Linked DNA regions of Homo sapiens: region 1 is linked to region 2. The links come from fine-mapping of genetic effects on plasma protein levels. A gene starts in region 2. The other region holds a variant in brackets. All regions are shown on one strand. Distances are from middle to middle.

Region 1 (15,963 bases), 17 kb before region 2:
AAGGAATTAATATTACTTCCTGTCTGTTGCATAGGGATTTGTGTTACATAAATCAGAATGCTGAATACCCCTGACATTTATACTCTGGCTGGAGATTTGGTTTTCTGACAATTGTCAAGAAGAACATTTAGGAACATTTATATTTTTCTTTATTTTTTGAGATGGAGTCTCACTTTGTTGCCCCAGCTGGAGTGTAGTGGCGTGATCTCGGCTCACTGCAATCTCCGCCTCCTGGGTTCAAGTGATTCTTCTGCCTCAGCCTCCCGAGTAGCTGGGATTACAGGCGCAGGCCACCAAGCTCAGCTAATTTTTGTATTTGTATTAGAGATGGGATTTTGCCATGTTAGTCAGGCTGGTCTCAAACCCCTGAACTCAAGTGATCTGCCTGCCTCAACCTCCCGAAGTGCTAGGATTATAGGCATGAGCCACCACACCCAGCCACAGTTAGGAACATTTATATCCCTGGTTCATTTGAATATACAGAGGCCAACACGGAGTATGATTACAAGTTCAATGACTATATCTAATAGTGTAATATATATTTTGTGTGTGTGTGTGTGTGTGTGAGAGAGAGAGAGATCTCACTAATTGAGGCTCCTTTAAAAACGAGAATACTTTTTGAAAACAGGTAACATTAACGTTCATTATGATTTGTATAACAGAAATTCCTATGTAACACCAAGGAGATCATATTAATTCCTTTACTCATGTTTGTTTATAAAATCATTTATTAATTCATCATGCAAATTCGTATTTTCAGTGTTTAATACATCCCAAGCACTGCACAAACACCACGGATATAAGCAACCATTATACACTGCCTTCAGTGACCTTGCAGTTTAGTGTGAGGTCCTTTCAAAAGCTGGTCTTAGAAAAAGCTCTAGGCTTCATCAGTAAAACAGGAGGGTTGGTCTTTGATCTTTCAGATTCCTTCCAGCACTAAAGTCATTTGATACTGTGATTAACTAACTTGATTATTTAAAGGTTGCTGTTCAATGTGCCTTTCCCTAAAAATATCCTAATCAGTAATAGATGCACTTTTCTCTCTTTAATAAATCCTTTGTAGCTGTTTTATTACTCACTGAATTTCACAGAATTGATTCCCTACAGGCAGAAAACCTCATTTACATAGAGTCACTAAGTCTATTTTTTACATGGTGGCTTAGACTTGTGACATAACGAAGAGTCAGCTGAGACGCAGAATACATTATTTATAAAGTCTGAAGCAGAAAGTTGGTTGCATATTGTAGATACTTAGATGTTCTGGTCTTCTTTGGATTAATGGAAATCAAATAGCTAATCTAAATAACTGCAGTGGTGGACTAGAAATTGCTTTTATGGCATGACTGCCATAGTCATTACAAGGGGCATATGCTTATATATATTTTTCAAAAAAAAAGATGACTTATCTTTTAACTAATGGCTAGACATGTTTATTTGGAAGTTTAATTACAAAAGCAATTTTAGGGCTGGGTGTTGCGGCTTATGCCTGTAATTCCAGCACTTTGGGAGGCTGAGGTGGGTGGATCACTTGAGTAGGGGAGTTCAAGACCAGCCTGAGTAACATGGTGAAACTCTATCTCTACTAAAAAACAAAAACAAAAACAAAAACAAAGATGAATGTGGTGGTGCATGCCTGTAGTCCCAGCTACTTGGGAGGCTGAGATGGGAGGATGACCTGAGCCTGGGAGGTCAAGGCTGCAGTGAGCTGAGATCACACCACTGTACTCTAGCCTGGGCAAGCAGAGTGAGACATTGTCTCAAAAAATGTGGGGGTTGGGTCAGGATGGTGGGAGAAATTGTAAAATTATGGGAAATAAACACAAAACTTCTTGGAAGGCCTGGGGGTTTACATAGCTTCAGTAAAGTGTTTGACTGAAAGCAGCTGAATTATCTTAAAAGCATAGGGCATGGATACCTAGGAATGTAGAGGAGTTTATCTAAATAACTTGTTTACTCATGTGGTCCTAAAACTAACCTTTGATCATTCGTGGGCAGGATGGCTCTCTGGGGTTGGGGGCAGGGGTCAGGGGGTGGGGAGAGTGACCAGGTTAATTAGCCTCTAGTGGTGCTGACTCAAAGCCTTTGTCATTTAATGTGTGCTGAATAAATGTCGGAGGAGCCAGCTAGTCAGGGTCATGGCTGCTACATCTCTTTCAGTCAGCGGCCTGGTCCCCTAGCCAACTCTTTCACTGAATATCAGTGTCTGAGTACGTTATTCATCCGTCATGCAGCTGGGGTCTGCAGGACGGACCACAGCCAAAAAAAAAAAAAAAAAAAAATCAGCAACACCTACTTGTTTTAATAGCTAATAATATAGGCTTTAGGTTTACAAAGCTAAACTATTTCAGTAGTACCAGAATCTGAGAGATTACAGAAGAAAGTGAAAAACAAATGAAAACAAAGACATTTTTAAAAGACTATGCCATAATACCAAGGTCACATTTTACATTTATTGTAATTTCAAGTATGAACAGTCAGTGATTTTGATCTTCATTTTACAAGGTTCCAGTACCAACCACAGCCTTCTTATGGTTTCCTCTCTCTGAATTGCTTAACCTAAAATAACAAATATTTTTACAAAGTATAGCTCTATCTTAATGGGCCCTTTTGAAGTACTATAAGACCATCATCTATTTCCTTGAAACAAGAACTTATTTTTACCAGTAAGTTCCTTTTAAAATATTGAATCTACCAGTATCCTTGGTCACTTGCCTACTCCAAATCAGGAGTGAATGTGCACTGCTGGTGAAATCTGAAATGACTTTAAAAGGAGGTCCATTTGGAGTGATCGTGATAATGCCATGTGCTTTCTTTCAGAGTTTCTTAATTAGGAAGTGCTTCCAAACTACCATCCTGAAATAGGTCATGGATTAATATGCATGATTCTTTCCCATACAGCTAAACTTAAAAAAATGTAGTTGTGGAGTTATATCTTAATGCTTACAATGAGAGCTATGGCCCAGTAACCTGGTAGGATTGTTGAAAGACTGGAATAAAAGTCAAGAAGGAATGGGATTTGTTGAATGAATGTTTTGATCAGACAGCAGAACAGTTCATTGAGCTGCATGAGGCTGCAGGAAGGAGCTATCAAAGATATCTGTGAACAGCAGGAAAGAAAGAAAGAAGGAAGAGGAGGCCAACTAGGTGGTCAGTTAATAGGGAATGAAAAAGTGCTAGCAGGGATCCAAGAAGCAAGCACCTACTCAGGGTTGGGTAGGACATGGACAAAAATAGCTTGAACCTGAACTCCATGGTGGACACGCAGACCAGCAAAGATTGAGAACTCCTGAAGTGGAAGAAAATGAAAGGATTTACCTGGATGAATCTGGAAATCCTATAGTGTGGCAGTTCTGCTATAACCAAATAATGCAGTTGTATTCAATCAACTTCCCTTCTGGATTATACCTCTAACAGAAGTTTTTCTTCTAGTGGATTTATCTGATTAGTGACACTTCCAGTATGTTCCAAGGACGTGAAAATTCAGATTTTGCACTGTGGATTTCCTTATGGCCAAGTCATAAACATTAATGTTATTCTTTGTTGACATTTAGAATATTCAAATTTGAACAGTGTACATATACTAAAGAAAGCACAGATAATAGAATCTGTAAATTATGAAAATGTATGTGCCACAGAAGTAGGACACTTAAAGTTGCTTATTTTTGTTGTATACAATCAAAATGCTTGTAAACATTTTACAATTATAGATCAATGGAGGGCTTTAAGAGACACTTTCATCTATTCCAGTTGCTGAAGATGCATCTCTGTAGCCCAGGGTCTAGCTGTGTGTAATGTGTGGTTCAATTGGTTGGTGAATTTTCACTTCCCCTATTTCTGGGATTTGTGACAGCCTGTGGTGATTCTGACCTTTATTCCTTTATCCCTCCTGGATTTCATGCCTAATTAACCAGTATAAAAATGAATACAGAGCTCACAAATTCTTAAACTGGATAAAACAAAGGTAAATGTGGCATAACTGCATCTCTTCCAACCAGTTACTGGGAGTATAAATATTTCCCTTGAAAAAGCAGCTTGAAGTAAGGTTAATACATGATTTTGGAGAATAAGAAATCTACTCCTCTCCCCCTTTTAAAAAACATTAAGGGCTAGCAAATGCCTTTAAAATTGAATCCAAGGTAATATATCCAGAGAGACACTCTATCAAGCACACATTCTGATATTTCTTACCAGAAGAGAGACAGTAGCATCACTATATAATTATTTCACAGTTCCTTTTTTAATATACATTCTTTAGCCTAACAACACTGATAGTCTTCTGATATACAGTTCTCCTTTATTAGCTATTATTCTTGTGACATTGGTTCTAGGCAAGATTTAGACATATTTTCCTTAATCTTTGCTTTAGCACACCTGAGGAATATGATATATTCTTCATGAAAAATAGCCAGTCTGTAGTAGGCACTGGACATGAAGTATAAGTTTAGGTAGTTTGAAAAAAGGCCACAGGGGTAAGTTTAAGATACCCACCTCACTGCTCCCCACCCCCAATCTTCATAGGGTCCCAAGGCCTCTGAGAATCACTCTTGTAAAAAATGTGAGAATTATGTTTTGAAAAACCCACTAGGGTTTCTGGCATTATTGAGTACCTGCTATACATTAGATGCTTCCTATATTTTCTTTATTTACCACCCTTATAGTTTCATGAGAAAGGAACTTTGTGAAAGAGGAAACAGTTCATTTACTCAACAAATATTTATTGAACATCCCTAATTATCAAGCACTTTTCTGGGCACTGGGAATAGAGCAGTGCCCTCTACACAAAATAGACAAAATAACTGCTTTGAGAAAGCTTACAATCTAGGGGCTCAGAAAAGTCACCCAAAACAAAGATGGGATTTGAAACCATACCACATTTCCAAAAGCCCCTCACATCCTCCTCTGAACATCTGGCTTTCCTCAAGCATCGACATCCAATATAGACTATACTTTTCATTTCAAGCAGAGAGCATCCACTGTGTACTGGGCCCTGGACATGGAGGTGAAAGCAGCAGACAAGGGCTCTGCCTTCACAGAGCTTACATTAAACGAACACACATGCATTAAAGCACCTAGTTGAAAACTGTGTTAAGTGCAATGAATAAAAAGTAATAGTGTGTCACATAAAAGAATAACAGGGACCTATTTTAGATTAAGGAGAGAATCAGGGAAGGCCTCTCTAAGCAAGTGTTATTTAAGTTGAGACATGAGGATAAATAAGAGTTAAGGAGGGAAGCAGTATTCCAGACAGAGGGAATAATATGAAGGCCTGATGGCAGAAAAGAGCTCTGTGATTAAAGAACTGAAATAATACAATGAACAAAGGAAAAGAAGAGGCTGGCTTATGAGGTAGGGGCTAGGTTATCTAGGCCCTTGTAAGCAGCAAGGATGTTGCATTTTCTCCTAAACACAGTATAATTTATAAAGTTATACAGGAGAGAGTATGGGGAGTCTCAAGCAGAAGCTGAAGAAGAAATTGGGTGGTTATTGTAACAATCCAGGTGAGAGAAGATAGTTGACTATGGGGGTTGCAATGAAGATAGAAAAGGGATAGTTAGATTATGGATAGACTTATTTAAAAAATAAATTGGACAAGACAGAGGTAACAGTAAGGAAGGGCGAGTCAGGATTACTCCCAGGTTTAAACTCAGCCAGCTGGGTAGGTAGGTGGAGCTGTCCTTCATTAAGATGGAGAAGGCTGGAACAAAAGCAGAGAGGGGTGAGATAGGGGATCATGAATTTTGCTTTGGATAGGTAAATCTGAGGTGCCCATGAGACATCCACTTGGAGAGTTAAGAAAGTAGTTAGATAAATAAGGTCAGAGTTCAGAGTGTAGGTCTGGGTTAGAGATACATTTAGGAGTTATGAGCACATTTGGATTAGAGTTTTTGGGGAGTGTGGAGAAGAGGTGCCCTATGGCCAAGCTCTGGGAAACCCAAACACATGCAAGACTTAGGAGGATGAAGAGAGAAAATGACCTTCCTTGAGAGCTCAGGGTCTGGCAGAAAGCAGGAACACAATGCATGTTTATTACTAATCTCAAAACAAACCTGTATTTCAGTTTCTCTTGAAAAACATTTTCCCCATTTGGCATAACTATTGTATTAGGTTGAACCATATAAATTACCTTTTTTTGGTAGGTCAAAAATAGTCAAATGTTGGCAATTTCACAAAGTTTAATTTCATACAACACAATTTGAAACAAAATCCATTTATATTGTGGGACAGTATACAGTTTTAAAATGTCACTTCACACATGAAGGAGAATCACTAATATTGGAGGCTTTATTATCGTACATGAAAAAGATACTAGATACCGTACTGGAAAAGATATTAGAACAAATCATACATAACGCTGCATATGATGTACCAATTAGTTTCATCCTGACAGTTGAGTTGACAGCCTGAAAATGCCATTGACAACCCATCACCATTTGTGTCGATAACCTCAACACTATTCTCTGATAAATCTATATATTTAGCGGAGTAATTTAACACATCTCAAATTTTTCATCTGGCTTAAGAAAAATCTCTTATTTCCTATTCCTTTCCATGTGGAGAAAACATTTAAAGGAAGTTAACAGATACGGTTGACTGCTTAATAATTTAATCTTTGCTTATAGAGACTAAGCTTTGAAAAACTATTCTGATACAGTTTGACTTACTTTGTGTAATTACAGGGCTACCTCATTTTATCAAGTAGACATATTCCAAAAACTATGTTAATAATTCAATAGCATATTTTAAATTTACCAAGGTGCTCATGATTGAAAGTTCTGACAAACTCAGAAGTCTGCAGTTTCTTAGCAGATAATATAAATGTGTGAATTGGTCCAGTATAATGGAGAATAGAGGAGTCTGCGGTAACTGAAGAGGATATTCCTTACCTAAAGAAAATCTTTTTTTTCCTAACATAATAAACTCTGCAAAACATAATTTAGCTGGCAGGAGGTGAGACAGAAAGATTTCAGTCTGTCAAACTGCCAGTTTGAAATGCCTAATTTAAAGTAAGCTTGCCGTGGATTTTCTATTCTTTTTTTAATATTATCATGAAACATTCTCTAGTTTTTGTCTGAAGTTAGAGTTTTTATATATTGATTTTATTATTTTTATAGGGTTTAGATATGTAATTGCAGCTGTCTAATTTTTTAAGAATGCAAGAGAATTCATAGTTGAAGAATGCAAGGTACAATATACAAATACTGTGAAGTAAATATGGACAATTCCATAGAAATACACAAAGTATTCTGGTTACTTCTGAGATCATAATTATATTGCAGAACTATGTTTTGGCTGGAAACAAATGCAAACTAGGTACTGTGTGGTGATACCTGAAATAACCTATATGATTTTCTATGCCCCACTTTCCTCATCTATGAAATGAGAATTATGATAGTACTTGTCTCATACGATTGTCATAAAAATTAAGGGTGATAATGTATGGATGTAAAGATATTAGTGCTTAGGTCACAGTAAAAAGTTCAGTCTCAGAAACAGTGAAGCAGTTCTGGATTTCCTTCTAGACAACACCCACTGCCTCCTGTAAACCTTTCACTTTCTCTTCACATACTAATAATAGCCTTCACATGATACACAAATAAGCATCACGAACACGTGATGGCAAACCCATTGCTCCATGTTGCCTTTTCTATTTCATTAATTTCTATGTGCAGTCATCTTGTTCTTACTTTCCCAAGCTACACTGCATGGCTGAAAAAATATTTCTCATAGAGCTTGCTAAATTCAACCTGGGAAGAAGATATGTTACATAATGTGTAATTAATCATTTCATATGCACATTTCTGAAACAGACATTTCAGTGCTGTCATTTTAGATATTTGGGTAACATATACATGTAGTGACATCCAGAAAAAAAAGCAAAGCTTTGGTTTCTTTAATTTCTCTGAAAATAAGTCATCCCGGCTGGGTGTTTTATCAATAGCTGTGAATTTACTTTTTAAGCACCGAAATTTATTTTTATTTTACCCATTTGCATGAAACTTTAACAAAATATATAATTCACTTAGTTTTTCCAGAAAAGTGGAAATGTAACAATTAATCCTCTTTCTTATGCCTGAAGGTCATTTTTTAAAACTTTCTGGCTCTGTCCTTCATTCACCCAGCCAGTATCTACTGAGCACTACATACTGCCCCACAGCTTATGTCTCTGCACTTCTCTGAGGTCAAGACATGAACCCTTCCGGCACCTATGCTTTCTTAGTTTCTTAGCTTTTTTCCCCTCTCATCTTTTGTTTATATTGAGTCACTGTTAATTTGTCTAAACATATAAACAGCATTCAATAGTAAATTAAACAGTTTATTAACAGTAAACAGGTTCTGCATAAAGGCTAATGGATAAATAAGGTGAATTTCACAGCAAGGAATTTGGCTGGGTTTGTAAGCTTATTTCCTGCATTCTAAGGTGTGTTACAGTGGAAATTCTGGATCCTTTTAATAAATGAGATATTCCTGTTAAAGTTTCTCATTTATAAGTCATTCTAAAAAGAAGAAAAGAGAACACTACTTAAAATATCAGTTGGTGCACTATTAGATTTAAAGTGAGACTGGGTTTATGGTTTTAAGTCATCAGCCTTATAGTCACAATTGTCTTGTATAAAGATAGCAATTACTGTACTGTAGCTTGTCATGTATGGTTAATGGTCCTCAGTGATGGATTATTCATGCCAGGCAGCTAGCTGAACATTATGTTTTAATGATGGTAAAAAGCATAGATGTCTTCATATGTTTTGTGGATGTTGAGAAGGAGTCAAACCAAAAAATAAAATGTTCCCATTAGGGTAAGGTAAGACATAAAAGGAACATTGTATGAGAGTAAACTAGAGCAAAAAAACACAAACAAAAATTTAAGACACAGAAGAGAGGAAATGAGATTCAGTATTTTAATGAAAGTTGACTTCCTTAATCATAAAAGCAAGGGGATAATTTCAAAATAGTGATATATCAATATCTCAGTGAGTAATTTTTAATAACATGAAGCAAACTGAATGTACATAAATATAATCCTTGTAAAGATTTAAATGCTTTACGTTTTCAGCTCATTTACAACGGTTACATTTTGAATTATTACAATTATTCTTTCTTTTCCTGCTGCTTGACTCAAAACTTACTCCTCTTCATCAGTTTCTCCCGTATCCCAAACTAGTGGTAACAAACCCAAATGCCTACAGAGGCCAGGGAGGCTGGGAAAATGACCAAAAAGAGCTCAGTGTAAGACAACAGAGCATGGTACTCATTGTGGAGAACTGGTATTTAGATACAGTTAACACACACACACACACACACACACACACACACACACACACAGAGTAACACACTCTGTCTTACCTGTGTGCTGACTGCTGACCTATTTTGTAATCCCTGAGCTAATTCAGGGACAAAACTAGTTGATTTCATACTCAAATTCCCTCAAATCCGCATCATCAATGCTACCACCTCTGAGACGTTGTCATCTCCATTTCTTCCAAAGTCCATTTTTATCCCTTCCTTATTTTTAATGTTGCATGACTATTTACTTTTTCCCTCTTGAATCAAGATCTGGCACCAAAGGCCATGTTTACAGTTCTTTTTCAGACTGGTTTAGCGACGTTAGTTCTATGTGACTGACATAAATAGGCTCATGGCTATTCAGTCTTCACTATGCATTACACCTTTATCAATATAAATTACCTTCCTTGACCTTAAAGGTTTTGCCTCGAATTCTGCCTTGTCTTATACAAATATAGCTGCCTTACATTTTAAAACTTATTTTTGTCTATTTATTGCTTCATCATCCTTTTACTTTAAACTAGTATTCTTTTGCTTAACTTCCTGTCTTTTAAATATTAAATAGTTTGACTTTTTTTTTCTATCCAGTATGATGGATTTTGTGTTTCACTAATGGACTAAAGCTGTTGATAACTGCAATATATTTGTTTAGTATTTGTCATTCTATCTTAAAGTTCTAGTTTTTTCTTTTTGTTTTGATCACACTTTTTTGTTCCTAAGTATTATATTTTCTGAGTGAAAAATAAGATATAAAGAAGTATTAAGATAAGCTGATATTTCCGCCTCCTTTATTTTTATCTGCTTAAAGTTGCTTAGGCTTTTTCCTTGCCTTCATTTTGAAATTAAAAAAAAAACAACAAAACACAAAAAAACTTTAACAAAGTGTGGGTAGGTCTTAGTTTCTCTTCACTAATTTTTCATGGTGTTCTGTGAGGCCAAGTGATGTAGAATGAATTTTTTATTCTACATTACTTTTTATCTGCTAGTCTGGGTTCCTCATAATTCTATCTTCCATAACTCCTATTTTTAAAAGTTTTAAATATTATATTCACTTAAAAAGCAGGTTTATTAAAATATAGTTCGCATATCATAAAATGTACCCTTTTAAGGTGTATAATCTAGTGTTTTGTTGTTGTTGTTGTTGTTTTGAGACGTAGTCTCGCTCTGTCGCCCAGGCTGGAGTGCAGTGGCAAGATCTCGGCTCACTGCAAGTTCCGCCTCCCGGGTTCACGCCATTCTCCTGCCTCAGCCTCTCGAGTAGCTGGAACCACAGGCGCCCGCTGCCACGCCCAGCTAATTTTCTGTATTTTCAGTAGAAACAGAGTTTCACCGTGTTAGCCAGGATGGTTTCGATCTCCTGACCTCGTGATCCGCCTGCCTCGGCCTCCCAAAGTGCTGGGATTACAGGCTTGAGCCACCGTGCCCGGCCAATCTAGTGGTTTTTAAGAAGTTCATCAAGCTGTGCAGCCATCACCAAGATCTAATTTTAGACCATTTCATCACCCCAGAAAGAAACCCCATAACTATTTGCAGTCACTTCCTATTCCCCTTTGTCCCTTACTAGTAATCTACTTTGTGTCTTTATGGATTTGCCTATTCTAGATATTTCACATAAAATGTGGCCTGCTGTGTTTGGTGTTTTTGCTTAATATGCTTTCAAGGGCCATCCATGCTGTAGTATCAGTACCTCATTCCTTTTAATCGTCAAATAATATTCCACTGGATGGCTATACAACATTGTGTTTATCCATTCATTAACTGACAAACATTGGATTGTTTCCACTTTTATGAATAATGCTGTTATGAACACCTGTGGATGTTTTTGTGTAGACAAACATTTTTTCAACTCTTTTCGGCATATACCTACAGTGGAACTGCTGGGTCATAGGCTAACTCTGTGGCTAATATTTTGAAGAATGGCTAAACTGTTTTCCAAAGTGACAGCATCATTTACAATCTCACCAAAACCTTATGAGTTTCAAAAAATATTATGAGGGTTCAAATATTCCCACATCCTCACCAGTACTTTTTATTGTTACAGGTGTCTGTCTCTTTGACTTTAGTCAT[C/T]CTAGTTTGTGTGAAGTAGTAGCTCACTGTGGTTTTGATTTGCATTTCCCTAGTGTCTAATAATGCTCTGTATTTATTCATATGCTTCCTGGATTTTTACATCTTGTTTGGAGGAAGAAATGTCTATTCATATCCTTTGCCTACTTTTAATTGCATTGTTTTAAATTGTTGAATTATAAGTTATTTATGAGCTCTGCATATAAGGTTCTTCTCAAATGCCTGATTTGCAAATATTTTCTCCCATTATATGGCTTATCTTTTCAACTCGTGTCCTTTGAAACACAAAAGTTTTAAGTTTGATGAAGTCCAATTTGTTTTTATTATGTCTCTTGTACTTTTGGTGTCATATCTAAGAAACTACTGTATAATGCATGGTAATAATTTACTCCTGTTTTAAGTTTTATAGTTATAGCTCTTACATTTAGGCCTGTAATCCATTTTAAGTAACACTTCTGTATATGGTGTGAGGTAGAGCCCAATTTTATTTTTTTCCATGTAGATATCCAGTTGCCTCGGTATCATGTGTTAAATATCCTTCCCCATTAAACTGTCTCAGCACCCTGTTGAAAATCAATTGACTGAAAATGTAAAGAATTATTTCCTGACTCTGAATTCTGTTCCACTGACACATACATCTGGGTTCCTTGCATTTCTATGTGAGTCCTAAGTTCAACTTGTCAATTGCTGCAAAAAAAGTGGCTGACATTTTGATTCATTAAATCTGCATATTAATTTGGAGAATACTGCCATCCCAACAATATTAAGTCTTTCAACTCATGAACATGAGATACTTTTCAATTTACTTAGGTCTTCTTTAATTTCTTTGTGATGTTTTGTACATCATTTGGTGTTTTTGTTGTAAAATTCTTGCATTTTTGTTAAATTCATTCCTTGGTATTTTATTTCCTTTTTATGCTGTTTTAAGTGGATCTTAAAATTTTGATTTTGGATATTCACTGTTAGTGTATAAAAATACAATTAGTTTCTTTATATCGATCTTCTATCCTGCAACCTTGGTGAACCTGTTTATTAGTTCTAATAGTTTTTCATGTGGATTCTTTAGGATTTTCTATATACAAGACCAATTCATATGTGAATAGAAATTTATTTCTTCCTTTCTAGTATGGGAGCTTTTTATTTTTCTTGCCTAATTTCCCTGGCTAGAACCTTCAATACAGTGTTGAATAAAAGTGTGAGAGCTGACATCCTTGACTTATTCCTGATCTTAAAGGGAAATATTCAGACTTTCACTACCAAATGTTAGCTATGTTTTTTAAAAAAATTATTTATGTTTTCTGTAGATGTACTTACCCCGTGGAGGAAGTTTCTTTTTACTCCTAGTTTGTTAAATGTTTTTATCATGAAAGTGTGTTTTGCCAAATATTTTTCTTCTTCAATTGAGATAATTATGTGTCTTTTATTTCATTGATATAGTATGTAATGCTAATTGATTTTCATGTTAAACCAACCTTTATTCCTGGAATAAAACTTACTGGATCATGGTATATAATTCTTTTGTTGCCAGATTTGGTTGCTAGTATTTTGTTGAGCATTTTTGAGTCTATATTTGAATTTTCTATTTCTTAAGTTGGTCTCAGTAGTTTGTGTCTTTCTAGCAATTTGTTCACTTCATCTAGGTTATCTAATCTTTTGCCATACAATTGTTCATAGTGTTCTCCAACAATACTTTTATTTATGTAAGATTGGTAGTGATGTCTCCTCTTTACTATATTAGGTTCCCCTACCCTTAAATATAATTTTCTTCTAAATTCTGAGAAAGTATCTTAACTTATAAAAAACTGACTGGCTTGGCACCCTTCAATACTCAATAAGCTATTCAGTTGATATATATATATTTATATATATATATAACTATAGTTATATATAATATATATATTATATATATAACTATATTTATATATTATATATATATATAACCATAGTTATATATAATATATATTTAATATATAAATATAGTTATATATAATATATATATTTATATATTTATATATATTTTATATATATTTATATATGTTTATATATATATTTATATATATATTTTTATATTTATATATATTTATATATAAATATAAAATATTTAAATATAGTTATATATATAAAAAATAACAATATAGTTAAAATATTAACTATATTTTAAAGTGTAGCATTACTTTTTCCATACACTTAGGTCATTTGGCTCTTAATCTTACTGTCCTAGTACAATATTCTGTGCAACTCTTCTAAATTTCTCACAATTAGATGATACCCTTCCTAGTGTCCTGAACATTATTTTAGCAGTTTGAAGAGGAGTTAAAATGAGAGCTTCAAATCCCTATTTGAGTAAAAAAAGTTATAGTTCACTTACAAAATAAATTATCATAAAATAAAACCTAACGTTTAATAAAATAACATTTAATGAGCATTTACTACACGCCAGTTACTGTGTAATGCACTCTGTGTAAAATCTCATTATGTCAACATAAACAACCTTTGAGTAAAGTTACATATCACAAAACCAAAGTTTAGAGAGATTAAGTAACATACTGAATATCATATAGCTAATGATTATGGAACAAAAATTTGAACTCAGTTTTGTCTGACTGTAGAGCTGACATTCTTAACCAGTGTTTGACAAATTTTTTTAAAAGGGCCAGATAGGAAATACTTTAGTCTTGTGGTTCACGTCTTCATTGCAATGACTCAACTCTGCTGTTGTACCGAGAAGGCAGCCTTAATAAGATGTAAATGAATGGGCATGGTTGTGTTACAATAAAACTTTATTTATAAAACAAGGTAGTGTGACTGTAGGCCCTAGCTTGCCATCCCCTGCAATTAACCAACATACCAGCTGCCCTAATTCTTCCTTAAAGCCTTTCCTGATTACCACATAGACCAATTTCTTCTCCTTCTGGCTTTCTACAATAGTAACTGCTGTAATATCATAGCCTTAAGTCATATATCCTTGTTGTAATGTAAATGTGTCTTCCAATGCCTTCTTTTATTAACTATATTGACAAAAGATTATGCCAGACAGTAATTTTATATATTTTGTTATATTCCCCTATAGAATCCAAACTCACACTAGAGATTGTTTGTAGAAGAGTTTAGAAATTTACACGTGACTCTTATCTGGAAAGCTTTATCCCGATAAAGCCATTCACCTAGGGTAACATGATAGAAATGTAAAAATCAGGCAGTAAAAATGTTGATATAGAAATGCAAAGACAACTACAATTTTGCCAAGTCAGTATCTTTGATTATGAGAGTTTTATAGGCAGAGAAAAAAATTAATGTACTTATTTACATTTTCTCAATTTCAATTTTCTTCTCAGACTTTCCTACCTCAAGGAATCATAATTCACCAAAACCATGAGTATCAAAGTGTCACTGTATGAATGAGTCATAATTTAGGTAATAATCACTCTATAGATGTTCATATTTTTCACATTTTTGAAATGGATAATAACACCATTTTCTAGGGTAATAAATTTTTAGAGTAGGCTCTCCTCTAGGGAATAATGGCTTATTTTGCTTTTTCAGGCAGCTAAGAAAATCTTCATAAAAGAAATCCTAATACTCAATTTTTCTTGTATTTGTATTATACCCATATTTTTTAATGCAGTCTATATGGAGAGATTACTGAATATTTTTAGATTTAAAGCAGATTTATTATAGAACCATCAAGTTTTACGAAAAGTGTTTGTAATGCAAAGTATAGGAAAAATATTAGATGCAATATTAGCTAGATGGCCTTTTAACTGGAGATACCATCAGTTTCTGAGGAATGCCTTTGCTCAGGGACTTAAAATTTGGAAATCACTGAAGTGAACACTTGGTATGGGAAGGTTAGAGTTGCTAAACTTCTACACACACACACACACACACACACACACACACACACACACAAAACGGCACAAAATTGATAACAATGAGAAGAAATAAAATTTAAAATAAACATGGTTTTAGTCATCAGACTATGGCTGAAACTACTGACAGTTATCCAAAAGTCATTCTCAAACCTTTGTTCCCCTGCTCCATCTACCACAGAAGCCAAAAGTCTTTGATATCTCCACTTCCATTAAAGCTAGGGCAGCCATATGACATGAGCCAGTTAGTGCACAGTGGACATCTGCCGGGGATCTTTGGGAAAGCTTTTATTTCCTGATTAAAAGAGAAAGACTCAACAGGAACAACTGTTTCTCATTCTTCCTTCTTTGAATGACAGTGTGATATCTGGATCAACAGAGGCATCTGTCTTACAGCAAGCACAAGAGAAATCACAAGGACAAAATTCTGACAACATCGAGCCTGTAAACAAAAAGCAAACAACTACTCTCCTCAGACTTCTTGTTCTGGAAAAATAAATCCCTATTGTTTTATCTCATTGTGCATAAAACTTGTAGCTGAAAGCGTTTCTAGTTGATCTGTACTTTACAATTATTTTTTAAATTGTTAATCACTTTTGGGCCATGCAATGTGAGGAAAAATTTGCTTTTAAGATAATCCTGGATAAGATTTCTTTCTCTCCTTTTCAAAATGTTCAATTTTATATTACTAATTATTAATTAAATCTGCTATTATATTAACAAATAGCTATTATTTACACCTTTA
Region 2 (15,963 bases):
ATTTTTCTCTATTTGTTAAGAAAAAAGTAATGGAAATCGTGTAGGGGAGGGGAGGTATTACATAAAAGCACATCTTTAAATCAGCAGAGTTCTAGAGGCAAGGAGAGAAAAGGACCACATAAACCCCAAATAGCATCTAATGAATAAATTCATGTCTGAAGCATGCGCCCATGCACGCACACACACACGCACACAAGCGCGCGCGCAAGTTTGCAGTTAATAACAAAATTTGTTCTACTCATTTAGAAATCCAACAAGATAGCAATATTTATATTTAGCTGTAATATAAGCAACCGTTGTTGGCAGAGGGCTGAATTTGGTACTAACACAGATGTCTAAGAAAAAGTCATTTTTCTAGTTGTATTTGTTTGCAAAATGATGTTTCATTATAGATTACCAAATAGTTATCCAAATTGTTACTACTTACCAAGTATGAACTATGTAAAAGGATTCTCAAAATGAATACAAACGTCAATGAAACTCAGAGTTAGCTCTAAAGATACTAAGTATCTGGTGAGAAAGATAGTATGAACTAAGTTTACTCTACACAAGGCACAGTGCTAATCATTAAGAATAATATCAGCAAGGCATGGTGGTTCACACCTGTAATCCCAATTCTTTGGGAGACCAAGGTGAGAGAATTGTTTGAGGTCAGGAGTTTGGACCAACCTGGGCAACACAGTGAGACCCTTATCTCTATAAAAAGTTAAAATTAGCTGAGCATGGTGGTTCTTGCCTGTAGTCTTAGCTACTGGGGAGTCTGCGGTGTGAGGAGTGCTTGAGCCCAGGAGTTCAAGGTTACAGTGAACTATGATCAGGTCACTGCATTCCAGCCTGGGCGACAGAGTCAGACCCTGTCTCAGAAAAAAAAAAAGGCGGCAAAAAAAAAAAGAAAAAGGCAGGTTAATTATCAGTTCTAAGCAAGCCAATTTATATAAATCAACATGAAGGTAAAAGTAAACAGAAGATAGTTAAATATGTGCTACAATTAATTTTACTACTAAAAAACTATATACAATTAACTAGAATTGTATAGGTCTTATCATAATGAAGTAAAAATTACATTAGATTCTTAATTCTAACACCAATCAGATTAATTTGTTTCTAGGTCAAATGCAAAAAACAACTAATGACCAACTCCACACATGCTTAAACAAAATCAGTCTATTTTTTTTTTGGAAGAAATAATTAGAAAAACAGAAGAGCAAATTCAGTTTTTATAGAATGAAATATGGTTTCTACAGATAAGCTTCAACAAAGGTATAACTCCAGGGCCTTGAGGTTAAATGGTGGTTGAGCCCTGGGTTTTTCTGTCTGTGAAATTAAGACCTTAAGTGCCACCAGTTGCAGACTCCTTTACCCTCGCCTATATATCCTATCTCTGAGATGAATTTAGAAATGCTGGCACTCAAATCTGTAATGTATTTGCAGCGCACACAGTGTGAATCCAATTGTGCTCAATCAACACTTTTGCAAAGGCAAACTAGCATAAAGACATTCTCAGAAGGACTAATGTGTAAGCAATCATTCTGTGAGGTCAGCTGACTCTGTCTATCAAAGCGCAAACTGTCTCAATGTGTGCATTACAGAAGTATTGTCCAATGTCCAATGGTTCTAATTCAGTAACTGGTTACTCAATTTCTTTATGCTGAATATGACATAAAGTGCTCAGGACTAACAGGAGATAGAAAAGAAGTACATGGTCTCTAAGAGTTAATAACGTAGTTACTTAAAACACACCTTCCAAATTTTAAAGACTAAATTCTTACAGGTTTAAGATTTAAAAAAAAAAAAAAAAAAGAAACAACAAAAAAATCTCTCCCTTATTTGTGTACGTTAATTCTGATCCCAAAAGCAGTGTTTAACCTTTGGAATTTGCTTAATTAAATAAATGGGCTCTTGCTCATCTTAGTGTCTGGTTCAAGTACCTTTATTATTTTAAAGGGGCAAAACATCAGTTTAGGTATTTACTTTTTGATATTTTGTCCAAATAATGTTTCACTTAGAAGTTAGTGTATACAGGTAGGATTTTTATGGTTAATAATCCATGAATATTCAAAATCTAATGAATACCAGTTTGATTCCAGTTAAAATGGCAATTGACTGGAATCAGACTGGTATTCATTAGATTTTGAATATTTATGGGTTATAAAAGCATAAAAAAGGAAGGTTAATCATCCAAAATTTATTCCAGTAAAAATTGCCATTTTAACTGGAATCAGACTGGTATTCATTGGATTTTGAATATTCAATTTTACTTAGAAAAGTAATGTATCCCAGTATGAATACAGGCCTCTACAAATTAATGACTGGGGGAGAAAAGGTCATGGAATCATGGATTATAGGAATTTAACAAAAAATATAAAATCTTTTTTCTCTTTTGCTAAAGGTGTGTTTCTCAAGTAGTTTTCTTTATATCTATTCCCCTGTATCCTTCTTTACCAAAACCATTTGATCTTGAACCTTTAAGTCTTGCTCTTTTGTGCTGCATGCATCAGTGAATCTTCCTGTTAAAAAGAAATCCATGCTAACTTATTTTTACTCAAAAGGCTTAGAATCAGAACTCTAAAGAAAAGACCAAAGGATATGGTAATTTGAAATTAACCAAGGTTTTTGGCTAAAGAACAATCATCCCCAGAGCAATTTCCATTCAAGAGAGACATTCTGCACTCTGTTGCTTTTCCTTTCTCATCATACATATTCACTGATAGCCATACACAAATAGTAAAATTAAAGAGCAAAATAAGTAATATGCTTATAACATGGGTAGCATTTTACACAGAATTATAAACTGCCATATAACGAACGTTTTCAACACCAATCAAGAAAAATCTTCAGATTACCTGAGATTGAATGTGAATATTAACTAACATGAATCAAGAGTGCAAGGTAAAAAATAAATGCCATATATTTCCAATGATATTCTCTCATATAAAAACATGGTCTTTTTTCAAATGATATTGAAACCCAATCTCTTTTACTGACACAGTAAAAAGGATCCAAATCTTGGAAACAGGTGAAAAAAATCAGTACTTTAATACCACAAACTCATTCATTCCTAATCAGATTCTATCCTTTACCGTGTCTCAGAGCAGAAGACCTATAAAGAGCTGAGATTCAAAGTATATCTTAATTTCAACTGTTTAGATATTTATCTTCTATCCATTTGCTTGCTTATTAACTGTTTCCCAATAAAACTCTTTCAAACAGATCTTTTAATAAAGGCTCGGAAAGAATTTCATTGGTAGTATTATAATTATTACATAGGGGAAATAACCCAGCGACAGCAATTATTCAGTTTTACAAAATGAATTAGTAGTAGGGTCTGAGAAAGAATCTAAGACTGATTCAAGACAATCCACTTAATCACAAATAACAAGGGCAAACACAGTCTTTTCCATGTGTCACCCTAATACCCACTTTTTTTTTTACCCCCAAAATCATTTTCACAGGGCCATATCAGCTATGTGAATTAATAGATTCTCCAGTGCTGTAGCAAAGATAAAACCTGATCCTTATAGTGGTTAAGTTTAGCAGCTACTGTTGCTTTTTCTTTCTTCTAAGCTCTTTGCTGTTTTTGATACTTAGCTGATTTGCTTAGGGGTAATTAAAAAGCAGCTGTTTTTCTATGATCTATCTGTCTATATATTTCTATGGTATGTGAGAGTGTGGGAGGGAAGAGTATACACACTGAAAAGTCACTTAGGCTTATCGGTAGTAGCACTCAGTAGGACTGAACTTTAATCTGGGAAGAGAATTCATTTGAGCCATTTCTTTTCAAAAAGAAATTTGGGATGCATTACAAAAATAAAATTTAAAATCCCGAGAACTCAGGAAAGCATAGAAATAGGAGAAAACAAGACAATTACTCCATTTTATTGACCCTGGTTATTAAAAAAAAACATAAAGTATTGAGACAGACTCTGAAATATGCAACTGTCACAATGAAAGCATTTCAGAGCAAAATTTGCTGCAATATGCTACTATGATTAAAAGCCATGTAATCTGGGAACCTCTGTAACAAAATGAAAATGAACTAGGAAAATAGCTTCTTACTACTTCTCTAAAAATAAAAGGCTGTAATTTTGTCATAATTACACAAAGGTAGGTGAGACTTTCATCTTTACCCAGCATTACAACTTATTTCCATCCATAGGTATTACAATTAACGTTGCTTTGAATGCACATATAGTTTAATACCGAGAATAAACTATTATTTTATGACACTACATGTGTTTTAAACTGAACCCACTATCATAACACATATTAAGGGTAGTCCTTCAGCACATACTCTCTACCCAGAGAAAAGATTCCCACACAGCTTTCCATGTACTCGTTTTTAAAATGTACACATATTATCGGACACAAATGAGAAACTAACGAGCAGCAGTGAGGTACACCATATGTTTCCATTGTAGGCTGAATCCAGGTCTTTGTTCCAATATTCCAGAGCCACTGGGAAGAAAGCTAACTATCCATTCATTAAAATTCATTTTTACATTATTGCTGGCAAAAGTTATACTTTTGATAGATTAAGTCAGAGCCCATCCTATCCTGACTATTCCTGCCTGCACTTGCTTCTTTAATACGGATTTCTTGCAATTCTAGGAAACTGCAAAATAACCACCCTGGATAACAGGTCGGTAGCAGGACAATCTGATAAACCAACGTAAAGGGTAGACACTGAAGAAGAATGCAAAGTTATTTTCCTAGTGAAATAGTTCAGAAGTTATTCTATATCAATAGCAAAATTTTTGCTTTTTATAGGCTACGCACCTATAACATCCACCAGATAACATCCACCTCGTCCTCAATTAGCAGGATTTTTCTCAATCTTCAGATCTCCCAGAACAGTTTTACTGGTGCAACTCAAACCAAAAACACTAACCACGCCCTTTATACCCAGAGTCAAGCTTCCTTTTGCTTTTTTGCCCTTAAAGTCGAAAAATGTAAATCTTTCACCCGAGAGGTTTTGCACCGGTTTCCTAACCCAACGCGGACTCTTTTAGCTGTGTCTTGATGTAATTCCTATTGGAAGACGTTTTCTCCAGGGCAGTGCAGACGCCCCGAAGAAGGACCCACGCTTACCTCCCACACACCTGCAACCCCTGACGGGATGCTGGAGCTTGTGCTCGGCGGACTGTGCTCCGCTCCGCTCTCGTTCCTGCTTTCGTCTCTCCCGGGAAACTACAGTCCAGACTGCGCCTCTGGCTTCTACAGGGACCCAAGCTCCGCCTCTCCCTCCTCTAGTTGGCGAATTTGGCAGCTGTTGCTCCTCCCCCTGCTGTTTCTGCAGCTGCCCGGACCGGAGGCAGCGGAAAGCAGCTGCCCTGGTACCTTTCCGCTCCCTGCACTTCTGCAGCTGCTCTGCCACTTCCACTCCCGTGGGGGTCCCTCTCCCCTCCTCTGTGGCTCACACCTGGAGCGGCCTCCTGCCCCACCCAGGCGTCTCTGCTGGGAGCCCCGGCTCAGCCTATCCTTCCCCGACCTGTGTGTCCGGATGCCCGGTGTGCCTGGGGCTTAGCTGCTCTCAGGGAAGCTGCCCCTCTGCCCAGTGCAAGTCCCCACACCAAGCCCTCCCTTCACCTGGGCGATTTCCCCGAGGCTTCCTCTCCACCCACACGGCATACTCAGCCCGACAGCCCCAGGATCCCCACCACAGGCCCCTCACCCCCTTCCTTCCTCTGCTCTGTCAGCCCGCCCCCTCAATGGGTGAGGCGCCTGCGGGGCCTACTCCGCACCCTGATTGGCGCAGGTGAGGGCTTGCCCCGCCCTTCCTCTCCTTTCCGTGCACCATCTCTCTTCATCTCACCTCCTCCCGCAAAGGCAGGGAATTCTCCTACTATTGGCTAGAAGTGTCACCACCCATCGCCTCAGGATCCCCCGCATGGCCTGCCGGGAAGTGTAGTCTTCCGATTGCAGGAATTGCGGACAACGCCGGCGAGCGGGACTACGAGTCCCCATAAGCCTCTGCACGACTCCGGCTGGGCAGGATTCCGGACAACGCCTGGTTCCTCTTGGGTCCTTCCGGCGTCGCCGGAGTGAATTGATCCGGGAGTTGAAGAGGGCTGCAAGGTGGGAAGTGAAGTCAGTGCCTCAGTTGCTGGTAAGGTGTAGCTGTTCTGTCCCAGTCCCCGTAGCTCTGCACCGAGCAGAAGAGGTCTAGGGTCACGCAGGGGCCATGGCTGAGGCACTTGGGCTTGGTTCTGGCAGGCGGAGCGGACGGGGCTGAGAGCGGGGCCCTACGGGCGTAAGCGAGGTTACCCTACGCGAGTGGCGTAAAGCGGGTTTGTAAATGCCGCCTGCCGGCTTGGGCCCGAACGCCTCCAGGAAGTCTCCTCTAGGTGGGGGCGGGAGGGGAAGGGCGAGGTTGGCCCCTGGTGCCCCGGGAGAGGGGACAGGGCGGATGTGCCTGGGGTGGGGTCCTTTGAAGGTGTGGCTTCGGACCGAGAGGTGAGGCTGCTGTTTTCCCCCTGCTTTGTAAGTAAGAGAAAAGGGAGGAGGAAGGAAAGGGTGCTTGGGAGTCGGCTCTTGGGGGTGACTCGGGTTATGCCCTTTGAGGGAAGAGGAGCACTGGAAGAAGGAAGAGACAAATGTTGGGGTCTACGGATTCAGTTCCAGTTTAATGATGTGGCCCTCTAAGGAGATAATTTTGCCTTAAACAGAAAGACTTGACCCTCTTAGGTGTCATACCTAAGGTATGTTTTTACTCCTTTACTGCTTTCAGAGCGCTTTCATTTTGGGATGCTGATGAGGAAACCGAGGGATTATATGACGTGCCCAAGGTCACACACGTAGGGACAGACTTTCTGAATCTAGTTCGGTTCGAGTCCAGCTTTAGAGTAGGGACGTTGGTTGTGCTTTTTGAAAAGGGTGGAGGAAGTTACAAAGTAAATGTATTTTATATAGTATATCTAAGAAGCCATTGTGAGATAAAAAGTTGTTTCTTGAACCGGAGTGAAATTCCTCAATAAAGGAAAGATCCTTTTGGAAAAAATAAAAATGGCCAGTTTCAACTTTTACAGATTTTTCCCCTTTTTTTAGGGGTGTATTAAATGATAGACTCTACTCTCACAGTTCATTTTTACGGGTAGGTAATAGGATGGGAGAACAACAGTTAAACAATATATCCCATCCTTAGAAGAATATTCTTTTCTTTTTCTACCTTAGGACTGTTTTTACTCTCATTTTGTAAAACTGATAATAGTGGGATTGGAATTCTTTCACAAAACTACACTTTTTTCAAATAATGTAGCGTTAGGAGAGTTTAGTGTGCCCATTACTAGAAAAGAAGGTATTTTGCATTTCTTGGAGGTAACATCGTCTTTTTTGAGACTTTACTTTTCCCCCATTTTCTTGACTCTGGGCTGTATTTGTGTGTGTGTCTGCAAATAATAAAATTGGGCTCTTGCATATTTTTATTTTTCTTAGCATCAACTGTGACTTTCAATTCATTCTTACTTTACATTGAAGAATGAAAAAACAGTACACGTATAGTTCATATCTTGCAGAAAGTAGTGCCTTTATGCAAGTCTTATCCTCTATAATGATTATGACCAGTTATAGCTCATGACTATTATTATTGGATAAGTTTTTAATAGAATTGTTAGAGTATGTTCATTGATGGCAGAATTTATTTGTGATAACTTTATATCCATACAGGTTAGCATGTAATAAATCATGGCTTACTCTTAACATGTAATAAATCATAGCTTACTGTTTTATATATAAGTTGATCATCAGACTATGCTGAATTTTGAATGTACTCTGCAGTTACTATATTATCAACAATGTGCTTCACTTTTTAATGGAAAAACATTTTTTCGGAACAGAGGTATTATCTTCCCTGATGGTTGAAATTAAGATGGTCTGGAAATTAATACGATTTTTAAAATAGAAAAAGTATGATACTATAGAATGAAGTAAAATCAGGAATAATGTACCATAAGTAATGTAGTACACAGACAAGGAAGACCCAGTTAAACAAATGGAAAATTATGTGGTGATAACTGACTTTGTGCTGGATTAAGAAAGGTGCAGTGATGTAAGTAGACCGTAAACTGAACATGAGTCAGTGATGGTAAAGCAAGAATATTAATCTGTTTTCTAGATGACAATGTAGGTATTTGCCTTTTGTTGAAGGAGGTATGAAATAAGTTCTAACCTTTGGCATGTAACTCTGTCATTATGGAAAGAGCTTTTGAACTATGAGGAAATTTTGGAAATTAGTTAATGTAATGCATTTGTTCAGTGTGTTTTAGATTTTGTTCTTGGTTCATTTCTGCCACTACTCTTTATCTCTGAGGCCAATTATAGTTTTGATATTTCTTCTATTCGGATGGTGGATTAATGTTTGTATTGTTGTTATCATCTTTCAGTCACATGCTGCGGTACTGTTGTCACTTTAGATCTCTGCACGTTGGATAATTAGGAGTTCACAGAGTTATGTGTACACGTGGTTTGCAGCTCACCAGTGTCTGCATTTCTTCTCATTTTGAACTTTGCAGGAGCCTTATGTCAGCTTTTGGACATTATTTCTTAGAGGACTTGGGATGTCTTCCGTATATTATACATCTGTCTGTTTCTCTTAAGGATGTAAGGTCTGTAAGAATAGGGGCTGTTTATTATTGTAGTCTGAGTAGGTAAGATAATATTTACAAAGAGAATGAAGAGGCTCAAGTTGGTTAAGTGACTTGTAACTGGTGGGAGTAAGACAAAATCGAGATCTTCTGACTACAGATCTTTAATATTTTGGAGTAAAGACTTAGTTCCCTTAGATTATTTACATGAGAAGAAGACTTAACGTGACTTAAATATTCAAATACTATTACCTTCTTACTCTGTTTAACACTAAAAATTTATCTCTTCTCCTATCCAGCTCTCCGTCCTTATCTCCAGCCTTTCTCATTTACCATGCCTTTCAGTTACTACATACATAAGCTGCTTCCTGACTTGGTGGCCTTTACATATTCCGTCTCACTCCTTGGACTGTTCCCCTCACGCCTACCTAAATGTGGCCACCTGGTAGTCAGTTTTCACGTCTCAATTTAAATATCGTTCGTCAGGGGAGCCTTGCCCGCCTTCCCAAAATCAGAATAGGTTTCCGCCATGTATTCACCATACTCTGTACTCCTTTGTGGCATCATCATAATAGAAACTTAATTATTTCTGTATTTATTTGACAAATACTGTCTCCTCACTGGACTATAAGCTCCCTGAGCAGGGCCCTCTCATTTGTCATGTTTTACCCCACTACTTACGCAGTACCTGGCACATTGTAAGGGTTCAGTAAATATTTGCTGAATGAATGAAGGAGTGTATTCATGCACAGTGCTTCCAGCACTTCTCTGGGGACAGAAATAGAGAAATGAATAAAGCGGATATGCTTTCTGGATTGAAGTATATAAGAACTTTCAAATGAGCCATAATGCTTAGGCAATTTAGGTTATATGTAAAGGAGTCATTGACAGAATTTTAATATAAATTGTGGAAAAATGTTTGTTCTTTTTGGAGGTCTCTGAAATCAGGATTAATTTTCTAAGTGGAAATGATAAAGGAATCACTTTCATTTGCCGCAGAATTGCTGTGTAACACAGCATTTTAGAGACTTATCACTGTCCTGCTTTTTGCAAGCGATATTCATTATAACAAAATATAGACATGGAAGAAACTTCTAATGGACTCTTCTTCCCTAATGTTGTCTCGTTTTGCCCTAAAAACCTTTATTTCCTCTAGGTAGTAGTATTAATACTGTTTTATAGCTGAAGACATCAAGAAAATAAGTAAATTTACTTATTAAACTAAAAAAAGTTTAATTAAATTGCTAGAGTTTCCAGAACGTTGGTACTGGAACCATGGTTAGAATCTGGATCTATCTCCGTATTCTAGAATCCATAATTTTTTCTTTTTCTTTGCTTTTTTGTTTTGTTTCTTGCTTTTTAACCTTGCTATCTTCCTATGAATTATACCTTTAATATCACTTGATTTAGACAAGGTGGCTTTGTAAAATTGAGTAGTTTTTGTTTCAAAGGAACTTATATTTTGGGTTTCCTGAAAATTTTTCTAATACTTTTCTAATCTTATTTGCTTTATAGCTGGAGACTTAAGCATAAAAAGATTATTTTTAAAACATACAAACTGAATTTTAGGGATAAATTGTGTTAGGTTTTGGTCTTGGAAACAAGTTCTGCAGTCATTTGTAGTACCACGGTATGGCATAGAGTAAGGTCAACAGCCCTGAGTTTCTGTAGCCTTGTATGCCTTCATGGATTTACCAGTTTACTCTTCCACAAGATCTTGTCAAAAAGAGATTGCTGATAATTTGGCTTTAAAATTTGGTAATACTATCCATTTTATTATTAAAAACAAGTCTTTGCTAAATCCTAAACTTACTTTTTAAAAAGTCAGTGTTGATGTTACTTGAATCTTGGATAAAATTTTCATATTTACCTAGCATAACCAGTATGTGGAGGATAAAACTGAAATACTGCTTTTTATATGTTGTTGGATAATTAATATCATTATGATAGGTGTTACTAAGAATTTTAAGCCACTTACATGATAAGTAATTTTTTCCATAATATAAACTGTAAAAGTGATTTAGAAGTTAAATGTCATTGTTATCTATGTTATTGCATTTGAAATATTATAGTAAGCTGCAGTGTTAGAGGGTTATGCTTTAGGGACACACACACACACACAATGCAAAAAATGAAAGCACATTTATTATAGCAATTAGAAATAATTTATGTGCTGAAAGATAAACACTGTGGTTTGATGGTTCATTTTTGTCTGTATGAAGATGGTAATTTCAATTTTGTCATTTAAGCTACAAAATTTAAATGTGTCTTAAGTGTATTATATTACACTTATTTTTCAAGCTCACCCTTACATTTTTGGTTATGTATAACCATTTTTAAAATCACCCAAAAGTGATTTTCTGCTGTTCAGTTTCATTCTTATACAGTTGATAGAATCCAGGTTGCCTATAGGGTTAAAAGAAAAAGAAAAGAATTTTATTAACAAGCTTATGAACTATTGGGTAACAGCAGTGGAACATGTTAAGTGGTAGTCACTAACATATACTTAGGCTGGTCCCTTGGGAATAAGTTTACCAGAGGTTAGTCTAAATAATGACTTTTTGATTCATTTACTTATTGAATGCATATTACTTGTGAAATTGCCTTAAACCTTCTTTGGAATGAACTGGAACCTAATATAATAGCTAGCATTTATTGAGTATTAAGTAACTAAGTGCCAAGTCTCATGCTAATAAGCATTTTACAGGATCTCTTATAATCCTTACGACAACCCTTCGAGGTAGAGGCACTATTATCTCCAGTTTTTAAATGAGGAAACTAAAGTACAGAGAGGTTAAGGAACTTGCCTACGGTTGCAGGAAAAATTGCTTGGAATTAGGATTTGAATCCAGGCTGGCTGACTCAAGAGACCATGTTTTTCATCATTATAGTAAAAATGATGTTAGTGATTGAACTGCATTGGAGAGAGAAATTAGCATTAAGAGTTGTAGTTACAGAGCAGTTATGTCTTAAATGCTAAGGTCAGTGTGGCAGGCAGAAATTACTTAATATTCAAACTTTTTAAAAAACCTATTAGGAAATACACGTTGTAGACTAACAACTTCAACACAGCCAGTTTTTTTCTAGCATTGGAGTAGATTTCTTTTGAGTACCAGGTGAAGTGTTTGACTTGTTATGCAGAGACCATATTGAAAAAAGAAATATGTATATTATAATACAAGAGTCACAATCAGTGTGGCAAGCTACTCTTTGTGAGAGCTCACTGTGGCTCTCAGTCTGGTGTGGGGAGTGGCAGATCCACGTTTCTTATCTGTCTCATTCTGGGACTTTTGCATAGGGAATGGAATTATCACATACTGCAGTAGTTATTTTTAGTGAAGTTATTTTTTTGTTTGTTTTCTTCAAACAAATGTTCACCATGTCTGTTGAACTTGCATAGGGTAGGAGTATCATGTGAAGCAGGTACGCTCCCTGGAGTGTTAATGCCAAGTGGCAGTGTGACATGTCACTGTATTTCTTTACTGTCTCTCTTCCCTGCCAAGACTACATACCTTCAAGGGTATGTGCTGTTTGACTTTTCATCACCATATCTCCAACTAACACTGTTGCTGACTTAGACTGACTATGCAGAATACTGTGTTGGATACTAGGAAATAGAGAAATGGATACAACTTCTCTTTAGGGAGTTTATACTTCAGTAGATACAAGGGGAAAGGGTTGAAAGACCATTGTATGGACATTTAGTCTTTCTAATATACTAAGTACTTCCATGTGCATCAGTTCATTTTACAATTTTAGGTTAGAGCTGATAGAAAAATAAATGATTGTTTCTCTAACTGCCATCTGGTCCCTGGCACTGAAATGGGTCTCCCTGTCTTATTCAGTCATTCTCTCTTACTTCAAGATAGACTGGAATTCAACTGAGATTGAAGTTATGGAATGACAAAACCCTAAGATGTTACACACCGGCTGCCTCCTCAGACTTATATAAGGTTACTACAACAGAAGCCAGTTGGGAATGTTAAATGAGTCAGACCTGGCCTCTAGACAGCAACTGCACCCTATACGAGTTTAGATTGTTGCTAGGCTTTTTTTCATTTAATTCCAAAGCATTTGGAATCCTTTTTTTTTTTTTATTGAGAACTGCACATCTTTCTCTATGTCTTTATCCATATTAAAATCGGTATTTATGCAGTACTGTCAAAATTTGAGAGATTTCCAAGGTTCTACCTTATTTTTGGTATGCTCCCTTAAAAAATAAATCACACTTTTGCGAAGTGAAGGTTACAGGAGGAACAGTAGATGCAGTAAAAACAGATACTATCCTAGCCCTAATTTCTTCTTGTAAGAAATAGTATTTGTATTTGAGATCAATTGGGAGCTAAAGGTAAAGTTAAATGTCATCATCAAGATAGAACCTTGGCCTCATTAGCACCTAATGTTAAATAAGGCAGAGGCTATTTATTGTCTGGGGCTAATAGTTTCTGTCAACATTTGAGTGCCCTGTGGCAGTGTTTTTGGTGCAAAGAAATTGTGTAAAGTAATGAAAGTACCTGTTGCATGTTTTAGAGGATCTTAAGCCATTAGGAGTCATTAAGTTAAATTCTAGGTATCTAAGATTATAAGTGATACAAAGCAAGTAGCTCTGATCCAGGGTGGTACAGATTCTTTTAATTGTACCTTTAAGCAGAGAGGACCTAACACTCTGAGGAATTAAGTTTAGTTGAATTTCTAAGGGATTTTAAAGGAAAGCTTTAATTAACATCGTATTGGAGAAACTAAGACAAGGAATAATACTAATAAAAAGGAAAATAGACATGTACCTCAATTAAACACCAAACAACTATTCAACTAGGCATTATTCATGAACCATTAGGTTGAGAACTTTATGGGCAAAAGATGAACATATTCAAGGGGACAGATTTGTTTCCTGTCTTCCAACAAGTGTTTTCATTTAAATTTTACTCAGATCAGAATTTACCAAAAATTTAGACATAGGAAAAAAAAATGAGGATTGTCACAACTAAAGAGATGTATGTTTTTCCCCCTGAACAAGTTGCTTTGAAATATCGTAGGAGCCAATTGTTACTATTTTGTTACTGTTTCCATTTCCCATCAGCTAATTCTGAGGTAATGAGCTCTTTAATTTTGTTGTCAACTTTTGATTATCTTGTACAGATTATAAACCTTTTATGAATTATCTCAAGGGCTTTGATCACATCTTGATTTCAGTGTGCAACCCAGCCTGCTACCCAGCCTGCTTCTGGGCCATGGTTTCCTTTGTTAAGTTTATCTATGTACATTTAGAAAAGTAATTTTAACATTGGTTTGGCAAAAAGTTTTAAAATGCACCTGATGGCCAAATTCTTTTATGTAAGCCAAAACTAAGTGTATTTATGCATCCATTTTGGCAAATGGGAGATAAAAGGTTTTGAAAATATGCTATGTAGGTGGCCTTTATGACATTGTGATATCAGTGTTTGACTCTCATTGTGTATGTTATGCAGGGGCAGGACTAGGGTGAGGCAAGAGATATGCCTAGGGTACAAACTTTGAAGAAGCACTAACTCTCTCAGTCATGCAAATCAGAGCAAAATTTTGTGTTCTAGGCATCTGGTTTGCCTCACCCTAGTTGCAATCGATTCCATGTCAGGTTCCTAGAATTTTGGCTAAAATATTAATAACAATATGAATAGAATGGTTATTATGTGTTAGCCACTGTAGTAACTATTTTATATGCAGTTAGTACTCTTAATCTGGGGAAGTGAGTACTTCAGTATTTCTGTTTCTCACTAGTTTAGAAATAGAGATTTACAAAACTGAAATGATAGCATCCAGCTGAGCAAAAATTCAAACTGAGGTTTTTTTCCTTCCAAACTGAGCACTATCTCCTGCTGTATACTGTCTATCTATGTGTAGAAAAAGTTACTTCTTACCCATTTTATAAATTTCTGTATTAAGAAACAGTACTCTGGCCAGGCACAGTGGCTCACGCCTGTAATCCCAGCACTTTGGGAGGCTGAGGCGGGTGGATCACCTGAGGTCAGGAGTTTGAAACCAAACTGACCAACATGGTGAAACCCCCATCTCTACTAAAAATACAAAATAGCCAGGCGTGGTGGCAGGTGCCTATAATCCCAGTACTCGAGAGGCTGAGGAAGGGGAATCGCTTGAACCTGGGTGGAGGTACGCCACTGCACCCCAGCCTGGGTGACAGAGTGAAACTCTGTCTCAAAAAAAAAAAAAAAAAAAAAAAACAGTACTCTACAAAATATGTAAGTGCATACACTTGACATGGTGCAGTTAACTTTTAAGATGAGCTGGAAGTCTCAGCAGCACCAAGTTGAAGATCCACAAGCTTGTGCTGCTAAGTACCCTAGAGTTGTCAGACATATTAAAGAAGAAACCAAAGGATAGAGAGGTGAAATGACTTGTTCAGAGACAAAGATAGTTTATGAATGACAGGACCAGAATTTGAGCCCATGCTTTGAGACTTTAAATGCTTATGCTTTTTCCCTGTATCTTTCTGCACAAATTGTCCATTTAATATTTTTAAAGCATATATATATATATATATATATATATATATATATATATATATATATATAAACGATACAATGGTAAAGTGCTATATACACTTACCATTAACAAGAGATTGCTTCTAGATGTCCCTAAGTGTAAAATTCTGTAAGTACTAAACTGACAGTAGTGTATGTTCAGGGAGGTTAGGTTCCACTTAACTTTATTAAGAAAACTGGAAATGGAAGACATTGAATTATAGAAGATGTAATTTGCAAGTCAAGGAGAGAGATGTAGGTATATCCTTAAGACATCAAGCTCATTTTACTCTAAGTAGGATCACTGACTTACCCTATTCCTCTGCCTCCCTTTTTCCTAGCTTTCTCCTCTAAATCTTGGTCTCTTGTTTGGAAGTGACTAACAGCATTTTGGCATGAGAAAGCCCTAAAAAGGTACGTAAACTGTGTCAGCAAATGTTAACCCCACCCCGCTTTGTTAAATGGCCAGACTACCATCTATACAGTCTTTGTAAAAATCCATTTTCTCTAAGAGTTTGATGAGTGATTTTTTTTTTTTTTTTTTTTTTTTTCTTTTTTGAGACAGAGTCTCGCTCTGTTGCCCAGGCTGGAGTGCAGTGGCACGATCTCGACTCACTGCAACTTCCGCCTTCCAGGTCCAAGCAATTCCCTTGCCTCAGCCTCCTGAGTAGCTGGGACTACAGAAGCCCACCACCGCATCTGGCTAGTTTATGTATTTTTAGTAGAGATGGGGTTTCACCATATTAGCCAGGCTGGTCTTGAACTCCTGACCTCAAGTGATCCACCTGCCTTGGCCTCCCAAAGTGCTGGGATTACAGGCATGAGCCACCGTGCCCAGCTGATGAGTATGATTCTCTGTGTTATAT

The links. A credible set is the group of variants that fine-mapping cannot tell apart. PIP is the posterior inclusion probability: the model's chance that the variant is causal. The UK Biobank Pharma Proteomics Project read protein levels with antibody pairs (Olink). The fine-mapping took linkage between variants from a reference panel, not from the people measured, so its PIPs are less certain.
Region 1: its variant is the best candidate, but not a certain one, in a credible set for the plasma level of the SERPINI1 protein (UK Biobank, PIP 0.58).

The regions. Positions count from the first base shown.
Region 1 is chr3:167,742,114-167,758,076 of GRCh38, reverse strand. The region is part of intron 1 of SERPINI1 (serpin family I member 1); the gene reads right to left. Among named protein-coding and RNA genes, the nearest start is that of SERPINI1, 14 kb to the right of the region's middle. RefSeq lists an enhancer at 7,469-7,588. The variant C/T (reference allele first, on the strand shown) is at 11,353.
Region 2 is chr3:167,724,949-167,740,911 of GRCh38, reverse strand. It overlaps SERPINI1 (serpin family I member 1), which reads right to left and starts at 5,191. Exons shown (of 9, transcript NM_001122752.2): 1 at 5,089-5,191. PDCD10 (programmed cell death 10) reads left to right here and starts at 6,020. Exons shown (of 9, transcript NM_007217.4): 1 at 6,020-6,250; 2 at 6,562-6,698. RefSeq lists an enhancer at 5,769-6,208 and a silencer at 6,259-6,388.